Linked DNA regions of Homo sapiens: regions 1, 2, 3, 4 and 6 are each linked to region 5. The links come from fine-mapping of genetic effects on gene expression. A gene starts in region 5. Each other region holds a variant in brackets. All regions are shown on one strand. Distances are from middle to middle.

Evidence for each region. PIP is the estimated chance that this variant, and not a neighbour inherited with it, causes the effect.
Region 1: its variant is the best candidate, but not a certain one, in a credible set for the expression of CLIC5 in skeletal muscle (FUSION, PIP 0.83).
Region 2: its variant is the best candidate, but not a certain one, in a credible set for the expression of CLIC5 in tibial nerve (GTEx, PIP 0.90).
Region 3: its variant is the best candidate, but not a certain one, in a credible set for the expression of CLIC5 in whole blood (INTERVAL, PIP 0.80).
Region 4: its variant is the best candidate, but not a certain one, in a credible set for the expression of CLIC5 in lung (TOPMed, PIP 0.53).
Region 6: its variant is the best candidate, but not a certain one, in a credible set for the expression of CLIC5 in whole blood (INTERVAL, PIP 0.75).

The regions. Positions count from the first base shown.
Region 1 is chr6:45,902,879-45,907,953 of GRCh38, reverse strand. It overlaps CLIC5 (chloride intracellular channel 5), which reads left to right. Exons shown (of 6, transcript NM_016929.5): 6 at 4,699-5,075. The coding sequence ends at 4,866. Among named protein-coding and RNA genes, the nearest start is that of CLIC5, 110 kb to the left of the region's middle. The variant AG/G (reference allele first, on the strand shown) is at 2,473.
Region 2 is chr6:45,948,988-45,954,062 of GRCh38, reverse strand. CLIC5 (chloride intracellular channel 5) reads left to right here. Exons shown (of 6, transcript NM_016929.5): 3 at 4,682-4,807. Among named protein-coding and RNA genes, the nearest start is that of CLIC5, 64 kb to the left of the region's middle. The variant C/T (reference allele first, on the strand shown) is at 2,285.
Region 3 is chr6:46,048,347-46,053,421 of GRCh38, reverse strand. It overlaps a transcript of CLIC5 not described here. Among named protein-coding and RNA genes, the nearest start is that of CLIC5, 35 kb to the right of the region's middle. The variant A/G (reference allele first, on the strand shown) is at 2,043.
Region 4 is chr6:45,957,687-45,962,761 of GRCh38, reverse strand. The region is part of intron 1 of CLIC5 (chloride intracellular channel 5); the gene reads left to right. Among named protein-coding and RNA genes, the nearest start is that of CLIC5, 56 kb to the left of the region's middle. RefSeq lists an enhancer at 1,623-2,122. The variant G/A (reference allele first, on the strand shown) is at 2,099.
Region 5 is chr6:46,013,029-46,018,103 of GRCh38, reverse strand. CLIC5 (chloride intracellular channel 5) reads left to right here and starts at 2,244. Exons shown (of 6, transcript NM_016929.5): 1 at 2,244-2,624. The coding sequence starts at 2,562. RefSeq lists enhancers at 1,442-2,286, 2,287-3,131 and a silencer at 2,544-2,593.
Region 6 is chr6:45,893,509-45,898,583 of GRCh38, reverse strand. CLIC5 (chloride intracellular channel 5) reads left to right here. Exons shown (of 6, transcript NM_016929.5): 6 at 1-128. Among named protein-coding and RNA genes, the nearest start is that of CLIC5, 120 kb to the left of the region's middle. The variant T/C (reference allele first, on the strand shown) is at 2,495.

The sequences.
Region 1 (5,075 bases), 110 kb after region 5:
CTCCTATTCAACATCATAGTGGAAGTCCAGAGCAATTGGGCAAGAGAAAGAAATAAAAGGCCTACAAGTAGGAAAAGAAGAAGTTAAATTCTCTCTTTACTGATTATGATTCTATTTCTTGAAAACCCTACAGACTTCACCAAAAGGCTCCTGGAACTGATCAACAACTTCAGTAAAGGTTCAGTATACAAAGTCAATATTCCAAGATTGAATTGGGAAGAAATTGAAACCCTGAACATACTAATTGAGTTATGAAATTGAATCAGTAATTTAAAAAAACCTACCAACCAGTAAAAGCCCCAGACTAGGTGGATTCACAGCTGAATTTTACCTGACATAAAAAGAAGAACCAGTACCAATCGTACTTAAACTATTCCAAAATATCAAGGAAGGACTCCTTCCTAACTCATTCTATGAAGCTAGCACCACCCTGATACCAAAACCTGACAAAGACACAATGAAAAAAGAAAACTTCAAGCCAATATCCCTGATGAACATAGACACAAAAAATTCACAACAAAATACTAGCAAACCAAATCCAGCAGCACATCAAATAGTTAATTCACATTGATCAAATAGGCTTCTTCTTAGGATGCATGGTTGGTTCAACATACACAAATCAATAAATGTTATTCGCCACATAAACAGAATTAAAAACAAAAATGAAATGATCATCTCAATAGACACAGAAAACCTTTGGATAAAATTCAACATCCCTTCATGACAAAAACCTTCAATAAATTAGGCATTAAAGGAACACCCCTCAAAATAATAAGAGCCATCTATCTATGACAAATCTGCAGCCAACATCTTACTGAATGGGCAAAAACTGGGATAATTCCCCTTGAAAACTGCAACAAGACAAGGATGCCCACTCTCACCACTCCTATTCAATGTAGTAGTGGAAGTCCTTGCCAGAGCAATCAGGCAAGATAAAGAAATAAAAGGCATACAAATAGGAAAAGAAGAAGTCACATTCTCTCTCTTTACTGGTGATGTGATTCTATTCCTCAAAAACCCTAAAGACTTCACCAGAAGGCTTCTGGAACTGATAAACAACTTCAGTAAAGTCTCAGTATAAAAAGTCAATGTGGCCGGGCACAGTGGCTCATGCCTGTAATCCCAGCACTTTGGGAGGCTGAGGCAGGCGGATCGACTGAGGTCGGGAGTTCGAGACCAGCCTGACCAACATGGAGAAACTCTGTCTCTACTAAAAACACAAAATTAGCTGGGCATGGTGGCGCATGCCTGTAATCCCAGCTACTCAGGAGGTTGAGGCAGGAGAATCGCTTGAATCCAGGAAGCAGAGGTTGCAGTGAGCAGAGATTGCACCATTGCACTCCAGCCTGGGCAACAAGAGCGAAACTCCATCTCAAAAAAAAAAAAAAAGTCAATGTACAAAAATCAGTAGCATTTCTGTATGCTAACAATATTAAAGTTGAGAGCCAAATCAAGAACATACTCCAATTTATAATAGCTGCAAAAATAAAATAAAATAAAATATCTAGGACTACATCTAACCAGGGAGTTAAAATCTCTACAAGGGGAGCTATAAAACACTACTTAAGGAAATTGCAGCTGACACAAACAAATGGAAAAACATTCCATGCTCATAAATTGGAAGAAATAATATTGATAAAATGGCCATACTGTCCAAAGCAATATGCAGATTCAATGCCATTCCTATCAATCTACCAATGTCATTTTTCACATAACTAGAAAAAACTATTCTAAAAATTCGTGTGGAACCAAAAATGAGCCGGAATAGCCAAAGCCACCCTACGCAAAAAGAACAAAGCTGGAGGTGTCACATTACCTGACTTCAAACTGCACTATAAGGCTACAGTAACCAAAACAACATGGTACTTGTACAAAAACAGACACATAGATGAATGGAACAGAAAAGAGAACCCAGAAATAAAGCCACACACCTACGGTCATCTGATCTTCCACAAAATTGACAAAAATAAGCAATGGGGAAATGACTTCCTATTCAATAAATGGTTTTGGAATAGCTGACTATCCCTATGCAGAAGAATGAAATTGGACCCCTACCTTTCATCATATACAAAAAGTAACTCAATATGGATTAAAGATTTACCTCAACTTGTAAGAATCTTAGAAGAAAACCAGGAAACATTCTGTACATCAGTTTTGGGAAGTAATTTATGATGAAGTTACAAAAGCAATTGCAACAAAAATAAAAATTGACAAGTGGGACTTAATTATACTAAAGAGCTTCTGCACATAGAAACTATCAACAGAGTGAACAGTTAGCCCACAGAATGGGAGGAAGTATTTGCAAACTATGCATCTGACAAAGGTCTAATATCCAGAATCTATAAGGAACTTAAACAATTGAATAAGAAAAAAACAAATAATACCATTAAAAAGTGGGCAAAAGACATGAACAGACACTTCTCAAAAAAAGACATAATAAGTGGCCAACAAACATTAAAAAAAAAAAAAAAA[AG/G]CTCAGTATCACCAGTCACCAGAGAAACGCAAATTAAAAGCACAAGGAGACACCTCCCTCACACCAGTCAGGATGGCTATTGTGAAAAAGTCAAAAAGCAACAGATGTTGGTTAGTCTGTGGAGAAAAGGGAACACTTATACAGTGTTAATGGGAATGTAAATTAGTTCAGTCACTCTGGAGATTTCTCAAAGAACTAAAAGCAGAACTATCATTTGACCAAGCAATCCCATTACTGGTTATATATCCAAAGGAAAATAAACTGTTTTACCAAAAAAATTTCATATGCATTCATATATTTATGACAGCTCTCTTCACAATAGCAAAGACATGAAATCAACCTGGGTGCCCATCAACAGTGTACTGAATAAACAAAACATGGTACATATACATCATGGAATACTACATAGCCATGTAAAGAAACAAAGTCATGTCCTTTTTAGCAACATGGATGCAGCTGGAGGCCATTATCCTAAGCAAACTAATGCAAGAACAGAAAACATGAAACTACATGTTCTCACTTATAAGTAGGAGCTAAGCAATAGGTACTCACGGACATAAAGATGGCAACAATAGACACTGGGGACTACTTGGCAGAGGGATGGAGGGGGCAAGTGTAGAAAAACTATGCTCATTATTTAGGTGACAGGACCAATCATACCCCAAACCTCAGCATCATGCGTTATACCCAGGTAACAAGCCTGCACATGTACCCCCTTGTATCCCCCCAAAAAAAAGAGGGAAGGAAGGAAGAGAAGGAGAGAGAGAGTGAGAGAAAGAGAGAGGAAGGATGGAAGGAAGGAAGGAAGGAAGGGAGTAGGGAGGGAAGGAAAGGGACAGAAAAGAGGGAGGGAGGGGAGTCAGAAGTGATACTACTCTCCTGTTACCCCTACCCTAGCCTAGCCTGGAAGGGCTAGAGGAGGACCAGCTAATGTGCAGGCCCTAGTGCACAGTGAAAACAGGGGGGCCCTGTTTAAAAATTATTAAGAATTTCCACACATTGACCCCAGAGCATTAAATCAACAGCAGGGCTCTTCTGAGTGCAAGGTGAGACTGCACAGGTCACAGGTCCATGAAGCTGCCGCAGCTAGAGAGACCTCATTAAAGAAACCATCCTGCTGTCCCCATTAAGAAAATGCATGCAAATGGGTACAAGCTAGGTCTCAATGAATTATAATAATACTTGATGTTTATTGAGTATTTACTATTTGCCAGGCACTCCTCTAAGCATTTGATGTGTATTAACTAATTTATTACTCCAAAGTAGGTTTTATTATTATATCCATTTTAGAGATAAAGAAATTGGAGCTCAGAAAGGTTAAGTAACCTGCCCAATGTCACACAGCTGCTAAGTGGAGCCATGATTGCAAATCCAGTCAGTTGGTATCCAGAGCCCATGCTTTTAATCACTTTGCTCTTGTTTCTCTCAACATAAATACCACTTCTCCAGAACTCTCCAGTCCACATCCCCCCTGACTGTGGCAAACCAGGGCGAGAACAGAAATCAGTATTTGCTTACTTTTATGTCATAGTCTAAACCTACATATACATTCCAATATCTAACTTGCTTTTCATGGTTTTTTTTCCCTTCTATAAATAAAGAAGGGAAAAACTGGCCTGTGTAAAACAAAGTGAATAAGAGAAAGAAGAAAAGAAAAATTGTTGGTAATTCTATCAATCAGACATAACCACTGGTAATATATAGGTATATAGACATCTAGCCATCATACATGTTTCTCCAAATGCATTATACTTGAACTTTAAATGTAATAGTCTATCTTGGAGAGTTTTCCAGATCACTAGATTTTCTTAGCAGCATCATTTTTAATGTCCCTCCACTATGACATTTTATTTGTGTAAGATAATGTATGTATTCATATATTGTTGGACTTTGGCGCTGTGCACCATTTTTGTTATTCAAAATAGCTCTGGGATCATAATTGTGTAGGTAAATCTTTATATCCATCCATGATTATTTCCTGAGAAAAAATTCCTAGAATTTGACACACTAGGTCAAAGGGCAAATTATGTTTACTTAAGAAATTAAATTAAAACAAAACAAAAAGAAGACAGCACTGCCACCTTGCATTTCAAACATATCACTGATGGCCCGTGGTGATGCACGGAGGTTTCCTGCAGTGCACACACACTGGGACGGCCACTAACACTTTCTAATGATTTGTTTCATGCCTTCACACCACCTCTGTCCTGCCATCTCTGTTTTAGATTGTGGCCAAGAAATACCGCAACTATGATATCCCGGCTGAGATGACAGGCCTGTGGCGGTACCTCAAGAACGCCTATGCCCGTGATGAGTTCACCAACACCTGTGCAGCTGACAGTGAGATCGAGTTGGCCTACGCTGATGTCGCCAAACGCCTCAGCCGATCCTGAGCACAGCCATTTTGCCCCATCCCCGCTGCAGAAGGACTCAACCACTCCCCTAAGACTCCAGCTTCATAGACTCCTCTGTATCACTGCCTTGAGGCGCACTTTTTATAATCAAGCCTCATCTTGCTGGTATCATGGGAACTCCAGCCTGCTATCTTTCATGAAGGTCAGCACCATCCCTGGCCTCCTCACATAGGAATCTAGCAGAAATG
Region 2 (5,075 bases), 64 kb after region 5:
ACCTTGTGATCCACCCACCTCGACCTCCCAAAGTGCTGGGATTACAGACGTGAGCCACTGCTCCTGGTCTTTTTCTTCTATTTTCTAGGCACTAAACACTTCCTGCTCCTTTCTATTGCTGCCTTCATTGTTGATCAGTAGCCAAGTCTAGAGCATTCTCCTATTGCACTCTCTCTTCCTCCAAACTCTCTTTTTCATTCTCAAAGCCTACAACTGGTTCAAGTCTCACCACTGCCACCCTGAGAGTCTCATTGTTCTTCAAACTGGTCTTCATCTTTCCAGGTTCACACATTCTCTTTTTCTCTCTCTCTGACCCATCCTTTATGTGATTCTAAGGTTATTATTCCTAAAATAATGCTTTAATCAGGCCACTTTCATGCACAGGAAACCTTTGATGTTTCCCATTGTCCATGGACTTGATGCATCCGAAGCCCCGATTTGTCTTTTCCTTCATTCTTCCCAACACTCTTTCCCAACACTTCTCACCGTGACCTGTCTACTCTGTCAGGCTGGCCTGCCTTCTGCTGTTCTTCTTCCTTTGAGCCTCCATCCCTTGGCAGAACTGCATCCTCTGTCTAAAACAGGCCCTCTCTTCCTTCTTGTCCCTGGCCCCAGGCTCAGCTTCAGCCCATCCCCTCTGTAAGGCCTACTCATACCCATCCCACCACACTCATACAAGCACACCTGTCAACCCAACCTCCCTCCAGACTCACCCAGCACCTGTTGTCTATGTTGCCTTGTGTCGTGATTTAGTGTTTCATCAAGTTCTGAGGTCTGCACCCCTAATGCTTTACAACTGGTAAATGCTTTCTCATTAAAAAAAAATCACATAATGTATAATCCTGTGAAGGAGGTCTTACTTCTCCGTGTTATTTGAGAAATAACTGAGACAGATATATATGAGACTCGCCCAAGATGCCAACTAGAAATTAGAGGGGCTAAACGCCATCTGCTTGGTTCAAATACTATGCTCTTCATAATACCTCAGTTATGAAGTTTGTTTCATCTTTCAAATGAGACCTTCAATCCCTCAAGGACAGACTGGAATCGTGTTTTAAGTTTGTTTGTATCCTCCATAGAAACTAGTTTTTCACAGGTCCTCAAATACTATCTGTCAAATAAATGAACTTGCATCCACTATGCAATTAATGTCTGTGATAACTAAAGAGAGCAGCAGACTTATGAAAAAGCAGCTTCCTTCAGTGCAGAATTGGAGGTGTTTGGATTACCATGTGTGAGAGAGGACTTGTATGTTTGCTGGAGAAGAGAGTGGGAGAGGGAACCACCCCTGCCCGCGTGCTTCAGATGGTTTGGTTCCTCCTTCACATGATCACACCTGGTCCAGCCAACACCCCTTTGACGTAGACCAGGCATGTAGCACCACTCCATTTTTACAGATAAGGAAACTTTCTTACTGCCCCCTCTACCCATGAACACACACATTAATTTCTAAGAAAACTGATTTATTTTCCTGGCACTACACTTTAGTGACTGAATAATCTTGAACTTTTCAGAGCCTCAGTTTCCTCATCTGTACAATGGAGACAGTGTCTTCTTAATCAATAGGATTATTGTGAGAATTTATCGAGGCAGGCCATGTAAAACATTTGCAATTGGTCCTGTACCTGACTCATAGCAAGAACTCGTTGCATGTTGGTTATTCTTAGAATTATCACTGGGTTCATGGAGCTGGCAATCCAGTAAGGAAAAGAAGACCGATCCTCATTACATAATTCATAAATCATACCTGGCAATACGTCATCCAATGCTAATGATATAGTCTCAACTATAAATACTGAAGCAGGGTCAACAAAGACAGAGGGCTGCAACTCTAGCTAAGCGTCGGTGGCCATAGGCAGTACTTCCCAAGGGCGTCTGACTCCAGTGGCCACAATTCTCCAGAATCCCAGGAAAAAACCCACCACCACCACCATCACCACCACCACACATTCCTGTATCTGTAAGCCACAGAGAGGTGACTGAGAGCACACACGTTGCTGCCTTGTGTCAGCTCTAAAAAACAGGAGCAAATAAAGAATGTCCTTTCATTGTCTAAAATGAGGGACATGCACAAAGTAAATAAAGGGACTAAGTAAATTAGATTTTAAAAATACTTTCCGTCTCAGTTGTCTGAGTTCCAAGTGCCTCAGAATGCAGCTGGAGAGTGTGTGTGTTTGGGGAGGGACATGGGAGTAGCACAGTAATTGAAATTCTTCTCTTCCCCTCCCAAACTGATTACGCCAGGAATTTGTTTCATTACAGACTCCTCTACTCCCACTGTTTA[C/T]TTTTTTTACAGTTTCTGCGTTTAATGTTTTCCACTCCCGACTCCCACAAGAAATGTGGCATTCTCAGAGAGAGCATTTGGGGTGAATCCCAGCACCGTCTTGGAAGTCGCCACCATTTTCCCTCCTCTTCCCTAAACATTTTTAGTGTAACCCTCCCCTTTCCCATTTTCCCCAATCTGCCAAACCTTCTTCCCCCTCATTTTGCTCCATTCTTGCTCTTGCATTCTGACCAGCTGGCGCAGACACAGAAGCACACTCCTGGATATTAACAGGACCTAGCCGTGTCAAACACAAGGCCACTTTCCTTTCCACTGCACTTGGCCTTCCTGCAGGTAGTCAGTGTGCTCCCCAGTGCACGCCAGAAATGCCACTTAGCACTGCTGTGGGCTAAGTGCAGGAAGTTCAATTAATTGTTCAGTTAATTAATTGTTCATTCATTCAATTGGGACTGCGTTCCAGAATTTCACCCACTTCTCCATCATCTAGGCCTTTCTTTCAGGATAATTTAGGACTCTTGGGTCTCCTCTTTCCCAGGGGGGAGAAATGCACTGTTGCTTTGGTTATCTTGGATTTCTTTAAGTGTCTGACCCAGAAACTAACAGGCACACCAAAGAGCTTTCTGTCTTCTTAGGGAGCAAATTTGCTGCCTATTACATATATATGTATGTGTTACCTAAAAGATCCTACTGGGCCCAGCAAAGTTTGCTATAAGAAGAAATAACTTTCATAAATCAAGTGATCTATTTGAATCCCATCACAAAGCAGAAGTTGCATTTACTTAGAAAATAAATTGTTTTTAACTTAAGATAACATTTAAGTAACCCCATAATTTTTAAAAATAGGCACAATTTCTGACTCCTAGGAGATTTTTGATTTATGTATGTTGAACAGAATTTTTAAAATTTAAAGAAAAATAACTTCTTTCTAGTAAATCTAGTAAATGTTCTCAAAATAAGTCTTATTTTGAGAACAGTAGATGCTTGAATTAAGTTAAAATACTGTGAAAGGTAGACTATGGTGGAGCATGAATACTGTAGCAGTGGAGTTGCCTACTGGTTCTCCCCACATTTAACTGAAAGCCGAAAGCCTTCATAACTGGATTGAAGTTTTTACCAATTTGAGACCAACATTTGATTTCTACTTTTGCAGCTAAAATCACTCATTTTTAAATTTAAAATGTATGAGTTTTTATTGCTGTTGTTGTTTTGAGACCGAGTCTCACTCTGTCCCCCAGACTGGAGGGCAGTGGTGCCATCAACGGCTCACAACTGCCTCGAACTCCTGGGCTCAAGCAATCTTCCTGCTTCAGTCTTCCAAGTAGCTGGGACTGCAAGCACATGCCTCCATGCCCAGCAAATTTTTGTTTGTTTTTTTTTTTTGTAAAGATGGGGGTCTTGCTATGTTGCCCAGGCTGGTCTCGAACTCCTGGGCTCAAGTGATCCTCCCACCTCACCCTCCCAAAGTGGTGGGATTACAGGCATGAGCCACTGTAGCTGAATCAAAAATGCATGCTTTATTCATGTAGCCATTAAAAATATGTATCTACTGAGGGCCTCCTATATGCCAGGCATGGTTCTGGGTCCTTTCCCTCATGGAGCTTGAATCGTAAGGCTTTCTCTCAGGTATCTTCTTACTCACCAGTAGGAGGTTCTTGGTTCAGAATCCTTGGTAATAGCCTACCTGGTGTTTGTGGAGCAATAATCTTAGCAATAAGAAGACTTTTGAAAACATCTTCATTTAATAGTTTTGTTTTCAATCTAATAGTTTGTTTATTTTCCTGGCTACCCAAAGACCATATCAGGGGCTGTTTATAACTCAAAAAGAGTATTCTGTTGAGTGTGACAAAAGGCTGACCAATGTTAGACATTAGTTATTAGATATTAAAATATAAGTTACACACAATAGAAGCATCTAACTTGAACAAATGGCCCAAACTCCCAATTTTTTGTATCTGGAGATATTTATTAGGAGAAAAGTATGATCTAATTCATTAATTTTTAAAGTATGGAATTATGTGTAGCGCATTTTTGTTAGGCAGATTGGTGAAAGAGCTTTTAAAAGCAAAACCCCACCTCTCCCCTGGGTAATTAAAGCTTGGATCTGACTTAGATAGTCACCTGGATTCTCTCCATTTTTTCAATTCTTTCATTTTTTCAACTCCTTCATCTTGACTTGTTCCTCTCTCACTGACTCCACTGGACACACTTCCTGGGTCACACCACATTCTTTCAGAACTTTCTCCAACCTCCCCTGCCCTATACTGCATACCATAAATCTGTTTCACCTGACAGGCATGTTGGATAGCACAGGGCATCTAAGTTACAATCAATCTTAGGTTTCCCAGAACAGGAAGCACCCTGCTGTAAGCCAACACCTGAATCTTGCTCTCTCTACAGAAAGCCAGCTGACCTGCACAACCTAGCCCCCGGCACGCACCCGCCCTTCCTGACCTTCAACGGGGACGTGAAGACAGACGTCAATAAGATCGAGGAGTTCCTGGAGGAGACCTTGACCCCTGAAAAGTAAGGATCTGTTTCTTTCTGGGGCTGTTGAATGGGAAGGGTTCATGCTGGATCTATAAAGTCCTGGTGTTAACTTCGGGCAGATGCATTTCCAAAGGAACCTCACCAGTCCAGAGAACAGGACCCTTTCTTCAAAGAGAGAGCCTAGGACCCCCAAAGGGCTGCCAATCTCAAAACCACTCCACAAAATCCACTCAAGAGTAGATATGGCCTATGAACAAGAGCCAGTCACTCCTACCTACACAGAGTGATTTTAGGAGCCCTAGGA
Region 3 (5,075 bases), 35 kb before region 5:
ACGGCTCAATTCCTCACTCCGTTCTGCTCAAACATCCTCCTCACCATCTAATATAGCACCTCTGAATTTCTGTTTCCTTATTCTCCTGTTTTCTTTATATCACTGGCATTGTGCTTTATTTATTGGTTGTCCATCTGCCCTACCAGCCTGTCACCCAGCTCCAGGGGCAGGACTTTGCCTGTTTGCGGTCTGTCACGGAATGATTATACTGAATGCATATGTGTATCAGGCCCTGCCCTCCAGTGTCTCTCCTCTCTCTCTCTCTGCAACTCCTATTAGTTGGAGGTTGACCCTTCTGTATTTGGCCTCTGTCTCTAGTCATTTCTCTCATATTTTTATTTGCTTTTTTGCTCAATGATTTCAGAGGCTTTCCTTATTTCTAGCTCTTCTATTAAATTTTTCATTTTTAGCAGTTATGTTCTTAATTTTTAATAACTCTGATCTTATTCTCTGATTGTTCCTTTTCCAAAGTGTCCTGTACTACATCATAAGGGCCGAGTGGCAGGGGAGGCCAAGTCAATCATCATTCCTTTGGGGTGATCAGGGAATGGATCTCCAGATGCCAGAAAGAGAAAGTCTTTACCCTGGCACCTCCACACCGAGACTGGAAGCACAAGCTCTCCCCACACCCTCAAATGGCTGCCTGTGGAGGGAACTTTCCATGTAGAGGCCACAGGTAAAAGGCTCCCAGTGCACTGCACAGAGCTGGGATGTGGGAGTTGGCTGCTGTCTGGCAAAGTTGTTCTAGGATAGAATTTCACTGACTCCCTCCAATGGAGTCCCATATCATACCTCCCACCCACTGTGGGATGGGCCAACTCCAAGCTGACAGCTTCTCTAGGGTCCTGGAAAAGAACAGGGCCCCCACCTCCTCTGTACCTACCTTAGGGTTTATTCTGAGCTATAATATTTTCTGTACTCTATTATCTCTCAACATTTTCCTACCTATCTTCTCTCTTCCAGAAGTTTGTCAACAACCCTTGTCATTGGTGACACTGTCTTATTTTCTTAACTGTTGTAAGATTGTTCCTTTTCCTACTTCTCTACTCTTATTTCAGCAGGATCTCAGGATAATCTGCAGACAGTAATATTTCAATCATTGTGCATGAGCAAAGGGTTCTAAATACAGCTTGGGAGCTGGTGAATGTGAAGTGTGTAAACAGGACCCTTTACTGCAAGGCTTTTCAGCACTTCAATTTGCAAACAAGAATAGGTCCTGCAAATCTCAAAGAGGGGGTGTGGTATGAAGCATTTCTCAATTATTTGACCACAAGAATTTCTTCTTTTTTTTTTTTTCAGGGAAATCTCATCATTTTTGTGTTCCAAGAAATATACTATGGAAAATACTAGACTAATTTATCAGTGTCATGCTAGCCCTGGGAGTGCAAAACAGTAGACATTAACAATGTTTGCTGAATGCAGGTGCAAAAGGAGGCTGAGTCAATGGGTCCTAAATACCACTCACACCCAAGTAACAGATTTACTTTGTGGAGATGATGGTTTATCTCAGATAGTCAGTGCAGTGGAAAGAACACCCAGGCTGAATTCAGACTAACATAATAGCTGGGTGCCATTAGGCAAATTGAATTATTTGAGCCCCAATTTCCATATCTGTGATATGGGAATAATATCTGCTTTTTTTATTTTATGAGGTAGTTTTGAGCATCAAAAGATAAAATATATGAGATGGTATTTTATAAAATGTAAAGCACTAAACAAATACAAGGAATTATTATTATTGTGAAACTCAGTTGCCATGTCACAGCAGTTAGAACGTGAAAGGGAAAAGACATTTGAGCATTCTCTAACCATATCATGTGGCTGGTTGCCCAGTCATCCTAAACTTAGAGATTGCCCCAACTGCAGAATCACAGGGAAAAACACAGAAAAAAAAGGAGAGAAACCCTAACCGTCTTATGGATTGCACGTAGAGCTAAATCAAGACTTTATCCTCACTTTACAAGTGAAGACTTGAGCTAGAGAAACAAGAGACTCAGCAATCTTTATCTGGAAAGGACCTTAGATGTCATTTGAACCAACTT[A/G]CTTGTTTTAGATGCATAGAAACTGGCCCAGAGAGGTTAAGTAATTTGCCCCCCATCACACTGAGATAATTGTGCTAGCAAGCAGGTCTCCAAGTTCCTGGCCAACATAACTCAACTCAACAAATGTTTATGGAGAGTGGAGTACCATTGCCCCAAGGGCCAGGGCATACACAAGTGGGAGCCTCAATTTCTATCCTGAAGGAGCTTACAAGTGCAAGAGAGGAAAGAGTGACAGTAAACACTAGAGAAGGGCTGATAATTTAAGACTGGGTTGTTCAGTTATGTTCTAAGAGTTCAGAGATGGGGGCCACTGTTGATGACTAAGGCAGACAGAAAAATCTTTTTGTAGTTGGTATTCTCCATTTTCAGAACTTTTGACTCACACACAGTGGCTCATGCCCATAGTCCCAGCTACTCTGGAGGCTGAGGCAGGAGGATTTCTTGAGGCTAGAAGTTTGAGAAATTCTGTCCTTTCACCTCAAAGATTCCATGGGGAGGAATGCACACACACACACACACACACACATACACACACACTTTATACCTTAAATACAACCTGCCATAAATCTCAAGGGTAGTTTCTTGACCTTAAAATCGCCAAGAAAAAAAGAGGACCAGTAGAGTCCATTATACCTGAAAAGTATTTGCTACCACCTAAGCCATCTCAAAAGTGTCTCAGAGCCCATGATTCTTTTGTGGCAAAGAAGACAAAGCACCCATTTCCCTGGCAACAACTTTTATTTAGTATTCAAATAACATCCCTGTGTTTGGAAGGCCAGTGCATCTTTTAGTGTTTTAATTTCTAAAGTTTATAGAGCAGCAAATTGGTTTGGCATCTGTTAGTAACTCTGCCCTAAGATGGGATGATTCAAACTTGGCAACTAGCAAGCACTGTCTCCCATTAGTAGCAGTAATAATGAAATGATGTGGTTGAACATCTCAGGATGCCAAGTTTACTTTGTGCTTGGACAAATGGTATATTGTGTTGGTTTTCATTTCTTAAAAGGTCCTTATAAAAGCCTCCCCTTTTTATTTATGTTAGAAAACTCAATTTAACCAAATAAGCAGAACCAGAGTGCAGGGCATCAACAGCGTCAGAGACTGGGTGTACTACGTGCAGGAATCTGTCCACAGCTGCAGGTACAGTTACTTTCAACTGAACAGATTAACTTTGGTTGCTCTGCATAGGGATGTGGTCCAGGCACTTACAGGGACACAGAGAAACATGGAGAAGGATCAATGGACAAGTGAATAAACAGCCCAGTGACATCCATTGGGCTTTAAAATGGTTTGCTGCTGAGGAGATATATTGGCAATTGGTGTGATGGGACCTCCTAAGGCCAGAGCTTATTTCTGAACATATATCCCACAGAGCACACATTCCTTGAGATACTCCACACAAAAAAATGGCTAAAGAAACTTGAGAAACAGTCCCTAATTCTCCTCTTGCAGATTCACAGTACACATTAGCTTATAAAAGGAGCAGAGACATCAGTCAAAAAACCTTGAATCTTGTTTAACTCAGCATTTCCCATTTTGGAAACAATTAACTATAACTTACCAAACATTGGAATTGCTATGTCTCGAGCTTTCTGCCTGAGGCTATTTACATAGCCTGTCAAAAGCTGATGGCAAAGAAGTGAAAATTGTAGTCTATATGACATATCTGTTTTTGTCCCTGAGTTAATTTACCCAACCCAATGTTTTGTTTCTTGTTTATGTTAGTTCTGCCTATTCCCACAGCCAGGTTGACTGCTCTTGCCTGGATCTGAAGGTTATATTGAAATGGGGACTCATACCTGGGTCTGTTGGTCTCCAAAGCCTGTATTTTTAACTATGTGATACTCTGCTTAATACTGAGGGCGTTTAAATTCCCCTCAATGGTTGGGTACTTTCATTGTCTCCTATATCAGTCAACTATTCCTATCTGCTAGAAATGAAAAAAGAAAAGAGAGGAAGGGGAGAAGGGAGACAGGGAGAGGGATTAATTTCTTGTAGAAGCATGGGTAAAACTTAATCACAGGGACATTTTTGAGCATTTGTAACTTTATCACAAGTTCTTGCTGTTTTCACAAGTTCCTGGGAGATGTTATGCTTGGAGGTAGGTTAAAAATATTATTTAAAGGATGAAACCTATTCATCTTCCCTGGATAGGGAAAGAATCCCAAAGATGATTATGAAAGAGATAGTCTAGGATTACTCCCTACAAGTTTTCCTGTGGAGCAGCCCCTAAACTGCTCTTCTCAACCTTCATTTGCAAAGCAAAACAGCATTAGTGTAATCAGTCCCCTATCTTTCCCAAATCTGCCTTACCCTAGTAGTTGCAGGGGATATTCAAACAGGAGGCCTGGAGAAAGTGCTTTTGAACAGCAAGCTCCTTTGTTTTCCTCCCTTGCCTCTGACCACTCTGGCTTTTAAATTCTCAAATTTGAATTCTCAAATTAGATTTTGTCTGACCTTTAGCATTGCTTGGCAACTATGAAGAGTCCATTTTCCCTACTGTGGCCACGGTCTGAACCACGCATTCTGATGCTAAGCCACTGCATGTGCCTGACTGACATGACACTGCAGGCTCTTGGCCCCCATTCTTCCCCCGGGAGACAAGTGGCACCTGATGGCATTGCCAACTTCTCACTGGTTAAACTATATTGAATTGTGTCCATTGCCAGCCTCAACTCCCTCCCAGGCAAGGAGGAAGGCCAGGGCTCTGATCAGGGCTGAGGTTTCAGGAGCTGGACTAGTAATGGAGCTGGGGTTGATGAGGAGGTGGGAGGTGGGGTGACTGCTGGGTGGAGCAAAGCAAGCAGCAGCCAAGGTGAGTTTTGAGAAAAGGAGGCCATTTACCACTGGCAAAGAGACTGGAAAGAAAGATGCCTGCTGTGTATGAGGCCAAAGAGCAAGCAGAGAGAGTATTTGAAACAGGGAGGATGGAAAAGAGTCAAGCCTGAAAATCTTCCCATGCTAAGACTGGGTTAGGAGCAGAGGCAGCCCTAGAATTTGTGAACCTGAAGTTCATGCTTTTAAGGAGCCCTC
Region 4 (5,075 bases), 55 kb after region 5:
GGCGTAAACCAAGGAGCCCGCTAAGTCTGGAGCCTACAAGTTCTTTTGGGAGGGGACATGTACACAACTATATTCAATTGTTTACAAAACCATCTGGTGAGCTAAGGTGCAGATGACAGCTACTGAATTAATAGGTTACCTGAATCAAGTAAAATATTTAAATATGCCAGGTGTAATGGTTAACTTTATATATCAACTTGGCTGGGCCATAGTGCCCAGATATTGACCAGACATTACTCTGGATGCTTCTGTGAAGGTGCTTTTTTTTTTTTTTTTTTGGATGACATTAACATTTAAATTGGTGAACTTTGAGTAAAGCAGATTGCCCTTTATAGTGTGGGTAGGCCTCATAGAAAAAAAGACTGACCCCCTCCTCTGAAGAAATGGGAATTCTGCCAGCAGGCTGCCTTTGGACTCGAACTGCGGCTCTTCCCCGGGGCTTCAGCCTGCTGGCCTACCCTGCAGATTCTGAACACACCAAGCCTCCACAACTGTGTGAGCCAGTTCCTTAAAATAAATCTCTCTCTCTTCACACCCCAACTGATATGTATTATATATATGTGTATATATATATACACACACATATATATAATATTATGTTATTATAATGTATTATATAAAAATAAGATGTGTATACGTTTCTCCATATATAGTAGATATAACAGGATGTGTGTGTGTGTGTGTGTGTGTGTGTGTGTATGTACATATATGTGTATGTATATATAAATACACACACACACACACATACATGTTGTGCTGGTTCTGTCTCTGGAGAACTCTGACCAATATACCTAGAATTCTTCATATCACATTGCACAGGTAGTGGTCTACATAGAGCTAATTAAGCCCATACATTAAACTTTAGATAAATGTTGAGGATCTCTGTAGCCTCAAATGTATACCTGTTACCTGTTTCTTGAATGAAAAATGCCTGGGTGACCCCAGTGAATTAGGCCTTTTGTGGCTTCTGAGAAAGGAAATGTTGATTTCTTCAAGGGTAGACCTCTCTGTCCTCATGTGGACCACGTACCACCAAGTCCCATCCCTGCTAATTGAAGTCTTGCCAACCAAATTATTGGAAGGATAGACTGTTTGGTATTAAAAAAAAAATAGTCACAACTAGAAATGTTGTCTGACTTACACTAACTAATTAAAAAATGGGCAGCTGGAAATATTATTATAAAGAAAGCTTCTTTGTCTAAACAGTTTAAATGAGCTATTATGTTTAAAGAAAGTCCTTTTCATGTGGCCTTTGCCACTTTGTCACTCTTTTCTAGAGGACAGCAGCCAGTGTGGTCTGCTCAGAACTGAGAGTCAGGAGTTAGAGAGACCTGATTCTGCTATGGGAACCAGCTGTGCTACCATGGGCAATTCATTTAACCTTTCTGGGTCTATTTCTCTACCAGTAAAAAGAAAGAACTGGAGTATAGCATTCCTGAGGTCAGTTACAGCCCTACTGTTGCTTAATTTTTATCTGTACACTTAACAAAATTATTTAATCACTTGAGTCCTCAGGGACAAGTTTCATGGGCGACAGCAACAAAAAGTGGAAATGTGACGTAAGTGGTGACTTAATTATCTTTCTTGAGAAAACTGAGGTTTCTTTCCTAATACTTCATCCAGGACTTAACCTTGCCAGGTTTTTAAAGAAGTCAAAGGTCACAAAAATCTTACATTTTGAAATAACAGACATTTAAGCATCTGATGTAGTCTGGGTCCAATCAGGAGTGAGAAACTACATGGTAGCTTAAACAGGAGAAATTCAACATGAAGTTTTAACTAAGATAAAAGAGTAACCATGACATATAAGGAAACTCTCTATGGTACCCTAGGGCTGAGGGAGAGGAGCCAGGGAAGGACAAACTTAGAAGTGGTTTGGAACCTGGCACAGAAACTCACTGGTTTGATCAGGCCAGAGCTGGTCTGGAGTCGCTGAGCAAGCAATAGCCCACTCCCCAGAGTTCAGGCAGGGAGCAGGCAATCAGCATCGGTACAGCATGCAGCAGGATCTAGGTGTTAGTGGAGAAGAAGGCCTTCAGGACACGTGGGGCTTGCAAAGGGGGTGACCAAGCTGTGTGGACACACTGGCCATAGGCCG[G/A]CTGGACATAGGCTTAATGGGGACTTTGGTTTCTGTGTCAAGAGTGCTGGGAAGGTTATTGCCAGGCTGAGGCTATGAGGTGCCAGGGGGGTTGCATGCTGAGCCTATAGCTGGGGTGGCTCCACTGCGTGCCCTCACAGCTACACTGCCCACCCCCAGCCCACACCACAGCCAGCAAGAAAGCCTCTTCCTCCTGCAGTGCCCCTCTAGTTCTCCCTGGTGAGAAAGCCTAACTTTGTGCTCACTTTAAAGGAGAAATGTTTAAAGAAATTCCCCCTGTTCTCACAGAGCATATATTCAAGGGTGCATTGGAGCTGAAAGGCAATAAATTGATAACTGACTCATCTATCAAGCTTCAATGTCATCTGGTCACTTTCTATAATTCCTTCTTGGATCCTCTCTGAATGATTCCTCCCACTTCTGGACTTGGGTACCCGCGAGTGACTTTTGGCCAATTATCAGCTTCCCCTTCATTATCTGGAAACCAAGTATTACATATCTGGTGTGTTCATGGAATGTCTTAAAACAATGGTTCTCCAATGTGGTTCATGGACTTCTGGGGTCGCTAAGAGGCTTTCAGGGGTTTTAAGAGGTCACAACTATTTTTAGAGTTATATCAATATGGTATGCTTCTCTCTCTGGGATTGGTATTTCGTGGGTAAGTTTACTAGTGTTTCAGCACAAATCCAAGCAGTGGTATAAGTGTGACTAGCCAGTCATGCATGTGCAGAAAAAAAAAATAGCCTCAATTATGAATGTCCTTGATGAAGCATTAAAAATTATATAATGTGATTAAATCTCAACCTTTGCATACATGTCTTCTAAACATTCTGGTTGATGAAATGGGAAATGCACATAAGCTCTTTGGCTGCATTCCAAAGTCTGATGGTTGTGGAAGGAAAAGCACTTGTATGATTGAGTTGCCAGCTGAACCAGCTGCCTCCCTCACTAAGCAGTTTTTACCTGAAAGAGCAACTGGCTGACACACCATGCTTACTCAGACTTAATATTTGTCAGTATTTGCTTCAGCCTGGGAGGCAGAAGTTGCAATAAGCTGAGATCGCGCCACTGCACTCCAGCCTGGATGACAGAGCAAGACTCTGTTTCAAAAACAACAACAACAACAACAACAACAACAACAACAAAAGCCCCATATACCCCAACTAAATACCAAGAGATTAAATGTGGAAGCCGACTTCTACTAAGTCAGATGTTAAAGATTTTGTAAAAATATAAAACATTGCCACTTTTACTAAATTTCTTGTTTTTAGAAAATATAGTTATTTTGTGTTAAGATGTTGTGTATGTTAATAGACACATTTATTATAGCATTTTTCTAAATATTTAAATGTTTTTCAGCTTTAACTTACAACACGGTAAATATCAATAACTATCATCCACATAAACAAAACCTTTCTGGGATCCTCAACAATCTTTAAAAGCATAAAAGAGTTCTAAGACTAAAAAGTTTGAGAACCGCGGTCTTAAATAAATCTCCATTTTCCACTTGAATTTACAAAATTGCAGGAAGTTATAGGTGCAGTGGTTGAGGCCAAGAGGAGGTAACTTATCTAAGGTCATTCACATAGTGAAGTAGAGGCAGAGATGGATCTAGAACCACAGTCTCCGGCTAGTGTGCTACATAACTCAGGGTAACCATGTATGTATGTATGTAGTATGTATGTATGTATGTATGTAGTATGTATGCATGTATTTTAGGATGATTTTCAGAATGCCAGTGAGAGAATTTTGAGATCCTCAAGCCACAAAAAGGGAGGGACATCACCCTCCCCTCAGCATGCATCCATTTAAATAGGCACTGAATATAAAGTAAGTTTCAGGTGCCTGTGCTTGTTGCTGCTGAAGACAAAGTAAATAAAACTTCAACTATGTTTTGAGGGAGCCAAGCTCATCATATATGGAGAGAGCTCACATGAAAGGCAATATATAATAGCATATAATATGAAGTATCCAGCATATAACAGATGAAGTGCAATCATACAGCCTATATAATTACATTATGCTACTACTACTGGTATCACCATATGGAATATTATATGTGGCATGATATTTTATAATAAGTTGTTATATACACTGTATCTAGGGAACAGGAAGTACTTTAGGATTATAGCTGGCAATCATGTTCAAAGCAGAATCATGAGCTTGGGAAGTTTGCCATTAGCTGTTTATATATATATATATATATATATATATATATATATATATATATATATATATATAATTGTCTTTTTGACACTTCCCTGATTGCATCAGTTTCCAAGAAATTGCTATACATAGTATAGCTGATAGCAGCAGAAACGGATTCTCTCACAGTTCTGGAGGCCAGAAGTTCAAAATCAAGGTGTGGGCAGAGCCAGGCTCTACTTGTCTCTTCTAGCTTTTGGTGTCTGCCACCAATCCTTGGCGTTCGTTGGCTTGTAGATACATCACTTCAATCATTGCCTTCATCTTCACATGACTTTGTCCTCTGCATGTCTGTGCCGAAATTTCCCTCTTCTTGTAAGGACATCAGTCATGTTTAGAGCCCATTCTAATCCAATATGACCTCATCTTCAAGTTGATTCCACCTGCAAGGACCCTGTTTCCCAATAAGGTCCCATGCACACATTCCAGGGGGACATGAATTTGGGGGAACATGATTCAACCTAGGACACTGTTTTTGTGCCGGTCCCTGGCCCCCAGTGCTCAAAATCTCTCTGGAACAAAGTACACCTGGGTTTTCCCTCACACTTTTCAGGATGTGGGGCCCAACTGAGCCCCACCTGGTTCTTCTCTGTTGATGTTTCAGATGGTCGTCACAGATCACGATATTTAACCCATGAGTTTAACAAACAATTTCTTAGGGCCGCAAGGCTGTTGGGATTTGAAGGGGAATAGAAGAAGCTGAAAGAGGGACACCCAGACAGTGAAAGTAAATGGTAGCATCCTCGCATATTTCTATTGGTCTTTGACAATT
Region 5 (5,075 bases):
CAGTCTCCCTCTGTAACCTTGGTCCTTCCCTAAAGTATGTAGTCATTGGTGCAGAATGTACAGCTGTGAAGGTGACTGTTTCTCTAAAGGCTTTGGTGATGTAAGCCTGAAGCCAAGCAGGAGGAAAGCAATTAAACATCACCTTGATTAAGTTATAATGTACCAAGAGAGTTGCACGTTGGGCTTGGTGACTGCTTTCTTCAGGAAGGAGGAATTTGCACTGAGAGTCTGTGGGGACACAGCCTGCCATAAAGGGTAGTGAGGACATCTTTCCCTTTTCTTTGCCTATCAGATGCCTGACCTTTCAGGAAGGTTCAGCTAAAGTGCCTTTTGCTCCATGAAGCCTTTTCCTCTCCTCACCCCAACCATGGTAAATAGTATCTTTACGTGACAGCTTGTATAGCTCCTTCATCTTCCCAATTCATGTGGCAGCCTTAGTTTTCATTTCATGTAACTATTATTCTGAAAGGGATTTTGATCTCTGTTAAGACCGTTAAAACCATGCCTTTGTTTCCTCAAAGTGTGCACTTCCATAGTGTGCACTAAGAAAAGCAGTTTGTAGAGCAGTTGAGAGGACAGGCTCAAGTCTGTCTGGGTTTAAATCCTGACTTCACCATTTCCTAGCTGAATGACTAGGGATAAGTTACTTAAATACTTCATGTCTCAGTTTCCCCACTTGTAAAATTGGGATCATTATACTATTTGTAAATATTATACAAGTTCACACATGTAAAGTGCTCAACATTTTTGCCTAGCACATAATAAGTATTATTACTTATTTTTTTATTAAGCGATAAATTTTTTAATAAAGCTATTAAACAAATACATGTTTTTAGTAAGGAAGGACATAGCACAAACAGGATTAATTAAAGAGAAGGCAAAGAAGACAAAGAGAATTCCACCAGATTCTGGTGCAAAACATTCAATAATTATTTTTTAAAGAACTGAAGGGTGGGAATGTCTGTTGGTGCAACCACTTTAGAAAACCTATGGCAGTGTTTACACAAGGAGAGCATTCTTATACACTACAACTCAGCAAGTCCACTCCTAAGTATACATCCAAGAGAAAAGTGTCTGTGAATCCAACCAAAAGATGTTTGATAGAGAGAATGTTCGTGACAGAGTAGTCATGATAGTCACCTGCACAAATGTCCATTGACAGAAGAATGAATAAGTAAGTGTGTCGGTGAAAATGGATGATACACAACTACACATAGCACAATGGATGAATCTCACAAACATAGTAATGAGCGAAAGAAGCCAGACACCAACATTCCAGGCAAAAAGATCCTATGCTGCTACAAGCCAGAATAATGGTTACCCTGGGACAGTGGAGACGGGAGAAAAGATGTGGAGAGGAGAGAGCAGGAGGAGCTTCTAGGGCTGTGGCTAACATTTTATTCTTCATCTGGCGCTCGTTACATGGGTGGGTTGGATTGTGAAAATTCATTGAGGCATACACCTAAGATATGTGCATCTTTTCTGTGTTTGCATCCTACTTCACTAAAACAACCAGAAGAGAACGGGAATGAAGTAAGATCAGAAAATAAAGGAAGAAATAGAAAGAAAATGAAAGAAGGGAGAAGAAAAATAAACAAACCCAGAAGGCTGAAAGGCATGGAAGCCGCACCTGACCGGGTTGACTCACCCCTCTGCCCCAGGAGCCACCCCTGCCCTGCCCTGCCCGTCCCCAGCACCCTACTCTCCTTTTGCTTAGCCCAAGGATGGCAAATGCCCCTTTTGGTGGGGGTTCTGAGCATCACTAAGACAGGAAGGGCTTTCCAAGTGGGTAAGGCTGGTAGTGGAGTAACTCGGAGGAGCTGACGCTTTATTAAAGAAACAGAAGACTTGAGAGCCATCTCCTCTCTTCCTTCCCCTTCCCCTTTCCCCTTCCTCTTCCCCTTCCCCTTTCCCCTTCCTCTTCCCCTTCCCCTTTCCCCTTCCTCTTCCCCTTCCCCTTTCCCCTTCCTCTTCCCCTTCCCCTTTCCCCTTCCTCTTCCCCTTCCCCTTCTCCTCGACTCTTTCTGCCTTCGCCTCATTATCCGCCCCCAGGACATCCTCTTGGCCTTGGTGGCTTTGCCAGGACCAGCTCTGTCTCCGCCTCCTGCCCTGCGGGGTCTTGGGGCGGGGGGCCGTGGCCCGGCCCAGGCCCGAGCTGCCGGGGTGTCCCCGCCGCGTCCCCGCCCGGCTGACCCCGCCCTGCAGCCGCCGGCTATTTTGGGCGCGTTGGCGGCGGCGGGATCGCTGACAGTCGCGGATCCTGTGACACCTCCGGGCAGCCCGGCACTTGTTGCTCCCACGACCTGTTGTCATTCCCTTAACCCGGCTTTCCCCGTGGCCCCCCGCCTCCTCCCGGCTTCGCTCCTTTTCATGTGAGCATCTGGGACACTGATCTCTCAGACCCCGCTGCTCGGGCTGGAGAATAGATGGTTTTGTGAAAAATTAAACACCGCCCTGAAGAGGAGCCCCGCTGGGCAGCGGCAGGAGCGCAGAGTGCTGGCCCAGGTGCTGCAGAGGTGGCGCCTCCCCGGCCCGGGACGGTAGCCCCGGGCGCCAACGGCATGACAGACTCGGCGACAGCTAACGGGGACGACAGGGACCCCGAGATCGAGCTCTTTGTGAAGGTAGGTCGGGGTCCAGTCTCCCGCCGCACCTGCCGCGCCTCCCGCCGGGCTCACCCACCAGGGCTCGGGGTGCGCTGGACTCCGGACCCTCCCAGGAGGGCGGCGCGGAGCCCTGTGCTCCCCCGTGGCCTTTCCGCAGGCCAGCGCCCCGCTGCGAGGCTCCTGGGCGGAATGGAGGAAGGCAGGTTCCGGCAGGTGGCCGTCTTCTCGGAGAGTTGATCCGCAGTTTGTCCACCCCCGTCCCCGCCTCCGCTGTCACCGCTGCGAGTCCGAGTCCAGAGCCCAGCCCGGACGCGATTCAGGCTGGTCCTGAAAGACGTCTCCAGGTGTCGGGATGCGGCAGAAACCTGGCTGGACCCGTGAACCTTTCCTTTAAAACGGGAGGAGGGGGAGGAATGGGAGAGAAACGTTATTGACACAATGATCTTTGGCAAAGCGAAAATGACATTTCTTAAAATTCTCTTTCTCTCTTTCGCTCAGAGATCCTAAAATAAAAGCCAAGGAGACAAAAGTGTTTTCTTGCTTGGTGACTTGCAAAGCAGAAAACAAGCACTCCATTCTCCGACGTTATTATTTTTGTCATAATCATGATTTTTCAAGGCAGTATCAAGGAAATGTTAGGCGTTTGGTAGTAGGGAGAGCCTCCCGTTCAACCTGATGCAGACAGGGATGAAGGAGCACAGTGCAAATTAAATGAAGTCACCTTGCTCCTTGGACAGAAACTGCCTAATGTCAGAGCTGCTGTACTTTATTTGCAACCTGTAGGAGGAAGGATGGAGGCGAGGCTGCGGCGGCGTTTCCCGGTCCGCCGGTGTAAGGAGAAAGAAACATTTGATCAGCCCTTGGTGCCGACGCTGCAGAAGTAGGGAAACCTGAGGCTGCGGGAGAGTAGCCTCCAGGGCTGAGCAGAAACAGTCGCCAGGACTTGGGGGAGGGGAAGTCGGGGACTGCCTGGGCGCCAAGACCTTTCACAAAGGGGGAAAACTCTCTCAGTGCAAAGTTTCCCTAGAAATATGCAGATCGCTGAGAAGGGAAGAGTCACTGGTGCCTGTCAGGGGCCTCCTGGCAGAATTTAAAAGGCATAAATATTCCCTGGAATTGGGAAAATGTTATTTTGCCCAAAAGATCCTTCTCTACAAGCTAATTAAATAGATGTTTGCAAAAAGTATGAGATCTACATAAACCTTGATAACAATCTGTGGTCTTTGGTACTTTCTGACTCTTAAAATGTGACTTACTTTACACTTGGTACGTGATCTGTCTCCGTTGTCCCAGCCTACCACAAAGGTTTGTTAAATTTCTTCTGCTGGGTTTTACATTCTTTGTGTTTATTTTTCAAGCTTACACCTGACATTTAGTGACACTTGCTTTCTTCAGCCTGTTCTCTTCCCACTGTGGCCCCTGTGTGCTCCTTTGGTTTCTGGGACTCCCCCCACCCCCACCCCAGGCTGGATTTCCAGGTCCTTTGGCAGACCCAGGTAATAAAGGAGGTCATTTCTCGTCTGATGCTGGGTAGTGTTGGACCTTAGGGCAGCAAGGGGGTGTTCTGAACCCCAGCATCCAGGCCTGGGCCCTAGGGGTGAATAGGGAGAGCTTTAACAAAGCGATGAGTCTTGCTGCTCTCCTTGAAGAAAGCGATTCTAGGACTTACTCAGATTCCTTGAGAGTGGTAGTTTCAAGGTGTCAAGTTTCTGAAAGATATTTGAAACACAAATAGGTTCTTTAGAACCAAAGGAGCCCTTTGCCCCACTCCTAGGTGTGGAGACCGATTCTACCTGCACCTTTGGAATTTTCTTGTTGGCAGTGTTGGAGAGTCTCTCCATTTATATAAAAACCTTACTGCACAATTTGCAGCGTTCCCCAAATAATTCTAAAATGACTGTGTTGTCATTTGTTTTTTCCCTAAAGGAAATCAATGAGAGCCAGGCAGGCCTTCATGGCTAGCTCAAAAACCAGATTGATGGGGAGATCAAAACATCAGGTATGAAAGTTGTTTTGACTCCTCCCTCAACCCCATCTTTTTGAGCTTCAGGTTAGCAGTTCTCATTTACAAGTAAATGGGACAAGTAAAGGCTAGAAATATTGTGAAATAAAGATGCTGCCCAGGCCTTACTTGAACTGTGTCATTTGAGGGAAGCAATATCCTTGTTGACAGAATCACACTTTTCCAAAGTTTGGAGTTTCTCTGAGGTACATGATTCCCCATAAAAAGAAAGGCCTTCTTGTTGATGGTGTCAGGTAACTGAAGCTCTTTCTGCAGGGCAGGGTGGGTTGGTTTCTATGAAGACTTCCAAGAAGGATGGGTCCCACCCAGTTATAGTCATGACTTGGTCATTTTCAACACCCCCTTGGAAGGACCTCCCAACCTCTTGTTTCCACTGGGTGTACCACTCTAAATCACAGTCACCTAATGAGTTTCACAATGACATGTAATTGTAATTGTCTCCCACG
Region 6 (5,075 bases), 120 kb after region 5:
GTAAAATGCCTTTTAATGAAGATACAGCTGAGTGTTTTCCTCATGAATCTGAACCAATTACCAATTTGTGTTCCAGTCTTGATTGGTATTGACTGATTCAAATAAAGTTGGTTTATTTTCAAATATTACAAAAGTGGTCATCTAACTTCTTATTTGAGGTGGGGATTTCCTGTGCTGTTTTAGATGACAAGTATGAAGTACCTTTTTTTTTTCCACATAAAGGTTAATTTATTTTCCCATTATAAAGGAAAATGTTCATTCTTTTTAAAAATCAAAGCATGCCTGGATAATTTTTGTATTTTAGTAGAGATGGGGGTGTCACCATGTTGGCCAGGCTGGCCTCGAACTCCTGACCTCAAGTGATTCGACTGTAATCCCAGCTACTTTGGAGGCTGAGGCAGGAGAATTGCTTGAACCTGGGAGGTGGAGGCTGCAGTGAGCTGAGATTGCACCACTGCACTCCAGCCTGAGTGACACCGACAGAGCGAGACTCCCTCTCAAACAAAGCAAAACAAAACAAAAAAATCAAAAGCAAATGGAAAAGAGGAAGAAGAAAACGAAAAGCACAAAGTTTGTGAACCAGCCATCCTAAAACCAATTTTTTTTTTTTTGCAAGACTAAATAAACATTCTTTCATAATACCTGGGCTAGGTAAAAAATTATACTGATGCTCTTTCAGTGTCTCATATTTCCCATCTGCATTGTCATCCATGGAGGTAGATCAACAGTGACAGTCCAGGTATGATTTAAAGAATTCCTTAAAATATCATTCTTCTTGTGCCCAGAGCTCTCTGTTGGCTCTCAGTGGCTTGCGTTCCTAGGCTGAAATCCCTACTCTCAACACCACATCACTGACTCTGGGTTCAGGTTCCCAGAGTCCTTAGTAAGCTTTACCTGAAGCCAATGTGACGTCTGATGAAGACTTCTATGAGCATTCACATTGCTAAAGGGTAGTCATAACAGCACTTCATTACCTTGGAAGAAATGAAACAGCAGACCCAGGGGTGGATCTTGATGGGAGGGGCAGCTAGGGTCTCAGGACAGGTGCAGTAGATGCAGCTGGTGGTCACCCCACCATCCCGACTCCCATCTTCCACAGGCAGAGCTCTGATTGGGTCAGGAGTCCACCACCTCCCTCCTCCCTACTCCCCCACCCTACACACACACTCCCACCCTCAGATGACTGGAGCGAGGGTGATTTCATCCCCAGTTCCAAGAGTAAAGCACAAATGGTCTGGGCCATCCTGCTGGCTGTGGTTGGTTTCAAAGTGGGCTCCTGACCAAGTTCCGCCCAGTATTGTGAAGGCAGATTTACTCAGGAACTTCTGAGAAATATCCCCTTGTTGTTAAGAAAGTGACTCCTTAGGTCACTGCTTCTGATTGTGGGTATGAGGCCTGGAAGTGCTGCCGTCCTCTGGGGACCCTGAGAGGGTAGCAGCCTCAGGGCAAAGGCAACATGCTGCAAAACGCAGCAAGAGACAGAGACAGAACCTGGGTCCTTGATGTGACCACAGAGTTGCTAAATCAACAAACCCTGAAACTGGTCCTAACTCTGGATTTCCTGTTCTGTAATTCATCCCAGATTGTTTGATGGTGATTTTCTTTTACCCCACGAGTGGCCCAAGGCATTCTAAGTGGTATATTAGCCAAGTTGGTTGTGGTGGTTGTTTTTTTAATAGCCAGTTAGATCATTAGACTGCTCACCCAGGAGGCGTCCCAGGCTTCCACTGTGTGAATGTAGGGCATCTGCTCTCCAGGCTGACCAAGAGCTGGGAGCATGGGAGACATCATCTCTCTGTGTCTTGGTTTCCTTAACGGTTCTGTGAAGAAACCAAGGGGCACAGGATGGCAGTGACTGTGCCTAGTATTGAGGAAGACTAAGTCCTGTTCCAGAGAAGCTTCCAGAGAAGTGACATTGTAAATGAGAGTATCTCATTACACTCAAAGTTGTTGTGACCTATGCTGCTTTTATTTATTTCTTTTGTTTTTATGTCTAGTAGCTAACCTACCCAGAGCCCCCAGTAAGTTTTACCTTGTGGGAAAAGGCATGGAGTATTAGACTGGAGAGGTAGGAAGTCAGGACTGAAAACAAAGAAACGAGAATTTGACTCTTAGGTCCATCATTAAATTACCATGTGCCCTTGAGCAAGGCTCCTTTCTGGGCCTCAGTTTCCCGAAGGGAGTTATGAAGGCTCCTTGTCTATGAGATTATACAATCTCTGATGAAGAGTACTTTTTGGCAATAAAGGGTTATTTTAAGTGGAATGACATTTCAACCAATTGGAACATTCAATCTATTGGAAGGTCTCTCTGTGCTCTTCTTTAATGGAAAGAAGCCAATAACCAGAAAATACATGGCCATCAGGTATTCGTCTATGTGAATTTTTTCTTTTAAAGTAAATTTCAGAGTATGACTTGGAGTCGATTTACATTATATAGGTCTCCTATCCTTCTACTTAGATTCACTGAAATCTACATCCACGTGCAATAAACA[T/C]GACCCTGAGGCCCTGCAATTGGGTTCATTCAGCTGCATTTATTTATGCAAAGAGTAAAGCATACTCAAAATTTGGGAAGATTTTTAATTTAAAAATGTGGAAATGAGAAAAACAAGTTTCAATGTAATCCTCCTTTAAGTAGAATATCTCAATGCCCCAAACACTCTTATTTCCAAATCCATATAGGCCTTGGAGTCTAGACCGCTGAGATGCATAATACAAATGCCATAATAGAGACCAGTTAAAACCCAGTACTATTCCGTCTGTGGAGCAGTGCTTGGTTTCACACCATTTTCAGTCTGTCTAGAATTGTTTCCTGTGTGTTAGTCACTGTTACCACCCTGTCCCCAATTACAAACTAAGCTCCTTTAAGAGATAGAGCGTAGGTTATTCAATTTTTGTGCCGTGCCTCACCTTGTCTAGGACGCAGCAAATATTAGATGCTCAAAAGTATTTATTAGTGGTTGACTGGAGAGATCATGAGACACTATTGCAGACTTCTGGGTTCACCTTGGATCTCACTCTTCATTTCCTTCTAGTCCCTGACACCCACTGTACCATAATTCTGAAAATAGAGTGAAAACAGAGAGCTAAGGAGAGAAATAGGTGTCTGTGTTAGTTAAATATGCTTCCAAGGTGCTTCTGAAGAACGAATCCTTCTAAAACAGTGTGTACAGCATTTATCTGTCTGGCTGAAAAAATGAAAAGCTACCTAAGCTCATTTTATCACATGGTTTTGATGAGTTAATAATTTAGTCAGTTGTCCAAATTAGCCACAAACTTGTGCCTAGATTAGGTGTTATATTTAGAAACAGGTTAGAAGCTTTGAGGGGAGGGTGATTCTGGGTGCTATAATCCTAGAATTATCTGACTAAATAAGGTTTAAACGAATGCATCTTTTTTCCGCATATAGGTTCATTAGGGAAAATTTTGAAAATACAGATAAGAAATAAAAAATAAATTATACTGGTAATCCTTCTGCCCACAGATAACCACCTTTAATTAGTAAATAATTATTTTCCCAGACTTTTTCTAGTGAGATAGGAATATAAATATGAATACTTTTTTTTTAACAAAAAGAGAACTGAACCTAACGTACCTTCCTGTCCCCATGATAAACAATTCTGGGGCCAAATATATTTTTCTGTTTCTATGCCAAACAATACTAGGACCAGACAAAAACAACTTGCTACTTTCTCCAGAAAATATTTGCTTACTTATCAAGACCTACAGCTTGCTCGACAATAATTGTCCAAGACCTCACCTTACAGTGCGCATGGATTCAAAGCTTTTACATTATAAACTTTGCCCAATCCCAGCCCGTTTTCTGCCTTTCAAGACCCACCTTATAATCATTTGGCCCTAAATGGCCCTAAGACCCTGTAAATATCCTTCCCTTCTGATGTGCTACTAAGACTCTGTCAAGAAGATGTTCTTCTTTGTTGAAATAAATCTGATAAACTTAGCTTTTCTTGGTCAATAAGTTTTTCTAGCTGTCTTTTTTGAGAATTATCATTAGCCAACACTCTATACAGTTTGTTAATGGGATTTTTTTCATGCATACATCATGAATATCTTTCCATGCCCTTTTTCATCTATAACTTTATTCTTGTGTATTACAATACATTTAACCAGTTTTCTTTATTCAGCCCTTAAGGTCACTCTAATTTTTTACTCAATTGATGCTATAATGAAGTACCAATAAGCTAGCTTCTTCATTATGTCTATTTTTCCCTTAGAATAGATTTCTGGAAGTGGAATTTCTAAGTCAAAAGGCGCACCTATTGTAAGGCTCTTGAGATAGATTGCTAAATTTACCTCCAGATTGTTCCAACTTACTCTCTCACCAGCAGACTATGAGTGCTAATTTTCTCACATCATCACCAGTATTGAGATGCATTATTTTTCAATTCTACTCAAATTGATAAGTGAAATATACCTCATGGTTGTCTCTTTATTTAACCATGTGTTGAAGATCTTTCCCAAGGATACAATTCCACTTTCTTTACTATCTTTAGTTTCTCTCTCTCTTAGACACAAGTGTGCTAGTTTCATCCCCTGTAACTTAGCTACGTGTCCACGAGACTGCCACACCATGGGATGAGTTGAGTATGAACTGGTTCTTGTGGCAGTTGTTGCTCCCTTTTGGCATATTTTGAAGTAGATGGCAAAACATAGGTTCTTTCTTTAATTAAAACAAGAAAACTAGAAAAAGAAAAATTTCTTTTTTTAGTCCACATAAGGATTACCATTTTAGGTCAAACCCAGTGTATACCACCCCCAATATAGTCTCAAGGGTACTAGGAACATATTATGGAAAGGGATGTATATGTGTTGTGGGGTAGGGAGTTCTCTCTGACTTACAGTTTTGGAAACATTAGTATTGGACCTGTGAAGAGCTATTTTCTACCAAGAAATTCCACCAGAAATTCTCACAATTCATTGAGCTCTTGGCCTTCAGCATAAGATCAATCAGGCTGCCATTAGGGACGACGAGTGTGGATGAGAGAAGAGAAACCTAGAGAGCTGGCAGGCCCTGCTCTGGGATTTGTGGAAGTGTGATATAGGAAAGTGAAGCAA